Homo sapiens: one gene and its partner. The protein of the gene in region 2 purifies or fractionates together with the protein of the main gene of each other region. This does not show direct contact. Each region holds a gene or a part of one and is shown on either strand. Other genes may lie near its edges.

Region 1 (3,836 bases), on a different chromosome or scaffold from region 2:
CCACAATCTGAATCTGATCCACAGACGGCTTGCACCATGCAACTGGAGAAGCCACAGACACTCAACACCAGCCTGTGAAAGCAGCCAAGAGGGGAGGCTGTACCCTGCATAGCCAGAGGGGTGGAGCTGCCCAAGACCATGGGTGCCCACCTCTTGCATCAGCATGCCCAGGATGTGGGACATGGAGTCAAAGGAGATCATTTTTGGAACTTGAAGTTTTAATGACTGCCCTACAGGATTTCAGACTTGCATGGAGCTAGTAGCCCCTTTGTTTTGGCCAATTTCTCTCATTTAGAATTGGTGTATTTATCCAATGCCTGTACCCCTCTTTTATCTAGGAAGTAACTAACTTGCTTTTGATTTTACAGGCTCATAGGCGGAAGGTACTTGCCTTGTCTCAGATGAGACTTTGGGCTGTGGACTTTCAGTTAATGCTGGAAAGAGTTAAGACTTTGGGGGACTGTTGGGAGGGTATGGTTGTATTTTGAAATGTGAGGGCATGAGATTTCAGAGGGGCCAGGGGCAAAATGATATAATTTGGCTGTTTCCCCACCCAAATCTCATCTTGTAGTTCCCATAATCCCCATGTATTGTGGGAAGGACCCGGTGGGAGGTAGCTGAATCATGGGGCCAGTCACCTTCATGCTGTTCTGGTGACAGTGAGTGAATTCTCACAAAATCTGATGGTTTTATAAGGGGCTTTTCCCCCACCTCACTCTGCACTTCTCCTTCCTGCTGCCATGTGAAGAAGGACATGTTTGCTCCCCTTTTCACCATGATTGTACGTTTCCTGAGGCCTCCCCAGCCATACTGAACTGTGAGTCAATTAAACCTCTTTCCCTTATAAATTACCCAGTCTTAAGTATTTCTTCACAGCAGTGTGAGAATAGACTAATACATCATGTGAGCCAATTTCTTATAATAAATCTCCATGTATATACACATTGGTTCTCTTTCTCTGGAGAAGCCTGACTAAAATAATAGAGATACCAATTAATCCTCCTGCTAGCAGTGTGTAAAGGTTCCAATCTACAGATGCCTATTTGCTTACCTTGCCTGCAAACTCTTACTCTCCTAAAAGACTGCAGCTAGTGTAATCTTTTAGGTGGTGAAAGAAAAATCTGGTTTTATTTTGTGTGTCTCTCTAAAAACTAGTCAGAGATGTCCCCTGGTCTGCATTACAGACAGAAGTCAAAATTCCATTAGGCACATCAATAACTTTTCGGGTTTATTTCTGACATTCTGCTGCCCTAGTGAGCTGCAACTCCTTTTTCAAGCACAGAATCTACTGTACTAAAGCTTTTCCTGAAACTCTAAAGTATCATAAGCTGAGCCCCTTTGCTGGTGCATGCAGGGAGAGAGTCTCACTCTCACAGTGTCTTCCTTTCCTGGGAGGCTGCCTCTCAGGCCACCTCTGTGGGTGTAGGGGGCCTCAGAGCCCAGGGTGAGAACCACATCTTATCCAAATCCAGTGCCCTAGTCAGAGAAGGCCAGGCTCTGCCTCTTACATGAACTTTACACCTCCACTGTGCCCTTCTTTAAGCCATCAGTACCCCCAGGACACCCTTCCCTCTCTGTCTTCTCTCTTCCCCAGACCCCGGCCTCTCTAATTAAAATATTCCTTCCAATTCTTCAAGGTCCAGCACGACTTTTCTCTACCATGGCCCTCCCTGGTTCATTCCACTGGAGTTAAGATCTCTGGCTCTTCAGAAAAATCAACTGGGGTCATTCTGGTGCTGCCACTTGGCAGCTTGATAACCTTGGACAAGTGAGTCTACCACCCTGAACCTCAGTGTCTTCTGTTGTATTACGGGAACATATTACCTCCCCATAGTGCTTCATAAGGATTAAATGAAATGACACGCAGTTGCATCCTACAGAGCAGGCACCCAGTAAACACTAGGTGGCAGAGCATTCTGAGTGGGTCACTCATTTTGGGGGTATTTCTGTAAATGCAACTATATTTGCTTTAACTGACTAATAAAGCCAGAGACACGTAGGTGACAGTAGTTTTCTCCATGACCTCACAAACTCTGCTAGAAAGGGCTATCTGGAAAATGTGGTCCCCCAAGTCATCTCTGCATATTTTCTCACAAACTAGGTAAAAACAAATGCATTTATTCTTACCATCAGAGTCTCTAAATCAATTGCTAATGAAGAAATGCCTGTTCTGGAAAGAACACATATTTTCAAATAACTTTGTATTAGTAGTACCATTTATTCAGAATAAGATGTCCTGTTTGCTCTTAAACTCTAGGCTGAAAGCTGGAGAGGGGTAGCATTGATAGGAGGTACAAAGGCCAAGGTCTCCTTCTTCAAGGGCCCTGGTGGGTTCCCATGTCCCCCAGGCTGACAGTTACATCAATTTGCAACTTTATCTGCTGGGACATACGTGAAACTTAGGGCCTTGGAAAGACTACTAGACCTCACTGCACTTCAATGTCATCATCTGTAAAATCAGGCAATACAAACGTTCAAGTGCACACAGGAGATTCAAGGAGGAAGTCTATGAAGATCCAGACTATGTAAAATTCCGCACATAATAAGCTATCAATAAATAGCAAAAAATCAACATATTTACAGAGCATAGGGCCCAACTCCTTCATCCTTCTGAAGTTCTTACAATCCATTATACAAACTAGGATTTCTAGATTCCAAGTCTTTTTTTTTTTTTTTTTACTATTTAATGTATTTTCAACTCCCCCTTTACAGTATACAAAAGTACAATATTTGCAATCCCAGTATGTTGTTACTGAAGTACATAAGAAAATTTCAAGCACACCTAAGGTTAATTTTGAAATACAACTAATATTTTTTAAACTCACTATCATTCTTAGTTTAAAAAAGTGAAGCTCTCAAACTCTCAAAATAGGGTAGAATGCCCTCACTAGCCCATTGCATCAATCTGCTCTTTAAAATACAAATAATCAAAACAAGAGCAATGGATCATGGCTAAGGATACCATCATGAAGAATTCAAACTAGACGGACAGCCGGTATTCCTTCCTCTGACTGAAAACTGACTGAAAATCTCCACATTGTATTTTTTTAAGCCCCATGAAGGTGACAGCTCTCTTTTCCTAACCTCAAAAACTAGCAGTAATGACAAATCTGGATGAAAACAACAGGAAATATTCCGAAGACTATTCATATGTGATGTTAAAAATCCTACCTTTGCATAACAACCATCATTTAGTTCTCTACAGGTTAGCTCCATCCTCTATCCTGAAAGGTTGAGCTGTTTTCAATTGGTTGTCCTGTGACAGAAACCAAAACAGCTAATTTGGAACCCAAACTTTAAAGGCATACCACACAAGGCAGCAGTGGGGAGTGCATCCTGTTCTAGCTTTGGTGGCTCAGGCCTTGTTTCCAATGGCTCAGTCTATGTTAAAAGCTTTGCCAATCTTCTACTTCGCCTGCCTGACTGATTTATAGCAAACTACACAGTAAAAACTTCCAAGCAGGATTTAACAGGTGTCTACATACAACAGCAAATGAGGACTTGTATGGTGAAACAGAGTCTTTAATAAATAAACATTTAACTAAAGAAACATTGTAAATTGACACTCTATAAGCCTCAGCTATATACACAAAATTAGTCTTCACCCTAGCTACACCTAAAGAGAAAGGGAAAACTAAATATATGAAGATGTTTCTTATCTCCTGACCATTTGATATTCCTCATATAATTCTGTACTTGTTCTTTTAGAGCACAGATCCCTTAAAAATAAAGCACTATTATGTCAGATGTCATAAAATGTTCTTCTCTGTACAGCCATGAGTATAATTTGAGAGACACCACACAAGAAACACACAGTTCCAAAAATATTCCCTGCT
Region 2 (2,682 bases):
CTGTGCCCAGCCCAGCATAATCTTTTATTCAACCATGAGCAAATATGTACCTGCTTTTAATACCTCTTCTGTTATATTTGCTGATTTACAAAATTTTTAAGATAATAGGTACATAAATATTTCATTATAAAGGTTTTTATAAATGGAATACATTTAGCTGGAAGGAATTATACCACCAGGCAAGAAATAGCCTTGGTGAAGAAAAAAACAGAACTCTTTGTCTCCCTAGTAAATAGGGTTTTTTTTTCATGATTTATATTCTGGTTTAAATACCATCTCTCTGTGACTCTCTTACTCTCTCAAGGTTAGAGGATCATTTTCTGTGCTGTTTCAGCACTTGTGCAAACTCTCTTATAAAGCTCCTCTAAACTATAGTTTAATTGAATGTATATGTTTACTTGAGAGATTAAATTTTCATTTACTCTTTTATTCATCTCCTACTAAAATGTTCCAGTTAACATGATCACTCCTTTTCTTTTTTAGTTTGAATAGACTATTTGACTCTATCACCCTGCTTTCCGTTAAGATGATTAGCATAGCACTGAATTCAACACATTTTTATTAATATTTCACCCCTTAGCTAGACTGTGGGCTTCTTTGTAACAAGGAGAATGTTTATATTTTTCTAATGGTTAATATCTAACATAAGGCCTAACTAATGTAGACTCATTCATCTAGTCATTTAATGAATATTTGTTTTATTTATACCTTTGAGTTGCATTTTGTCAGAGCCTGAAATACAAAGACAAATACATACCTAGTGCTTTCAAATACAACATGTTGTAGTATACAATGAACAGATGTGTAAACAAATAAACTTATTATAAGAGTGTTGTGATAATATAGTGTGTGTGACAACCAGGAAGAGGTAATGATAAGTTCTATTTTAAGATTTAGCTGAGTTGATAAAAATATTCAGAAATATGGGAAATGAAATAACTAACAAATGAAGCATGAATGAATGAATCAGTGAATCAATGATTTAATCAATCATTTCACCAATTGGTTGACATTTAACTGGGAAAGCCATACCATATACCAACTAGCTCCTGCACTGACTTCTGGTGTACGCAAGCCTTGAGGTAAATAAGACTTGTCTGTCCATTCTAATATATACATAAAAATATTTCTCAAAATTAATTCATAAACCTAATTTTAGCTTCAAAGACTGACTGGGCTGGAAAATGTTCTATAGGAAAGATTATCAACATAGACAAGACACTTAAGGACTCTTTCAAAGTTTAAGAATATATCCAAGATGAATATATTAGATAAAAGTTGTGTGAATTCATACCAACGACTTGATTAAAACGGGCAATGTAACTTTTGTCTTTCTGTGGCTGGCTTATTTCATTTAACATGCTAATTTCCAGCTTCATCCATGATGCTGCAAATTACAGAATTTCATCATTTTTTATGATGCCACATTTTCTTTATCCACTTCTCTGTTGATGGACACAGGTTGATTTCATGTCTTGGCTATTGTGAACAATGTTGCAACAAACATGGGAGTGCAGGTATCTGGTATCTCTTCAACATATTGTTTTTCTTTTTTTGGATATATATTGTTGTTCTCATTTATATGTGGGAGCTAAAAAGGTGGATCTCAAGGAGATAGAGAGTAGACTGGTGGTTACCAGATGCTGGGAATGGTGGGAGGAAGAGAGGATGAAAAGAGGTTAATTAATAGGTACTAAAATACAGTTAAAAAGAATAAGACATAGTGTTCAATAGTACAGTGGATAACTGTAGTTAACAATAATTTATTACGTGTTTCAACATGGCTCAAAGAGAATTTGAATGTTTCCAATAAAAAGAAAAGATAAATGTTTGAGGTGATGGATATTCTAATTACCTTGATTGAATTATTACACATTTTATGCATGTATCAAAATATCATTTGCACCTCCCAAATGTGTAAAACTATTATGTATCAATTTAAAAAATTTAGAAAAATAACACGTGATTTTTAAAAAAACACCATTCTACTTTTTACTTCTATGAATTGAACTAGTTTTAGCCATTCTGTAAGGTTTATATATATTTAAAACATTATGTTATATATGACATATTTAACTTTATGTGTCAATTTAAATAAATTGAGTTAAACTCATTTTTTAAAAACTGGCAATAGACAAAAATTAAGGGAAAGGCACTGAGATATACATCCAGAATGGGCTATAAATTTCCCCAAAACAGTTTCAGAAAACATAGACTGAGAGAGAAAATGTATGATACTACACATGAATAAATGTAAAATATCACACGTAAGTTTATTCTTTGTTATTTTTCATTTATCTTTCTTCCATCTGAATTAAGTTGCCTTGAATCAACCTGCACCCTTATCACCCTGGAAGAACTTTATGACACTCTTGCGTATCTGTTTTGTCTTTACTCCATAAACAATAGGGTTTAGAGTTGGGGGAAGAAGAAGATAAAGATTAGCCACAATGATGTGAAGAGAAGGGGGAATTGTGTGTCCCCCAAAACGGTGGGCAAAGAAAGTGAAGAATGCTGGAACATAGGTGATGATGATGGCAGATATATGGGCAGTGCAGGTGCTGAAAGCCTTCTGCCGAGCATCTGATGAAGAGAGGCTGATCGCTGCCTTGAGGATCAAAGTGTAAGACAAAGATATACAACAAATGTCAAACACTCCAATCAGGAGAGCAACCATTAGAC

The links.
Region 1: the proteins of OR52N5 (region 2) and CD226 purify together in Homo sapiens (affinity purification with mass spectrometry; one large-scale study listed by BioGRID and IntAct). This does not show direct contact.

What each region holds. Positions count from the first base shown.
Region 1 is NC_000018.10:69,941,313-69,945,148, forward strand, and holds part of CD226 (CD226 antigen isoform a precursor), read right to left. Parts: intron 1-3,836.
Region 2 is NC_000011.10:5,775,331-5,778,012, forward strand, and holds the end of OR52N5 (olfactory receptor 52N5), read right to left. Parts: coding exon 2,330-2,682; 3' UTR 835-2,329; downstream 1-834. UniProt on the Homo sapiens protein: Odorant receptor.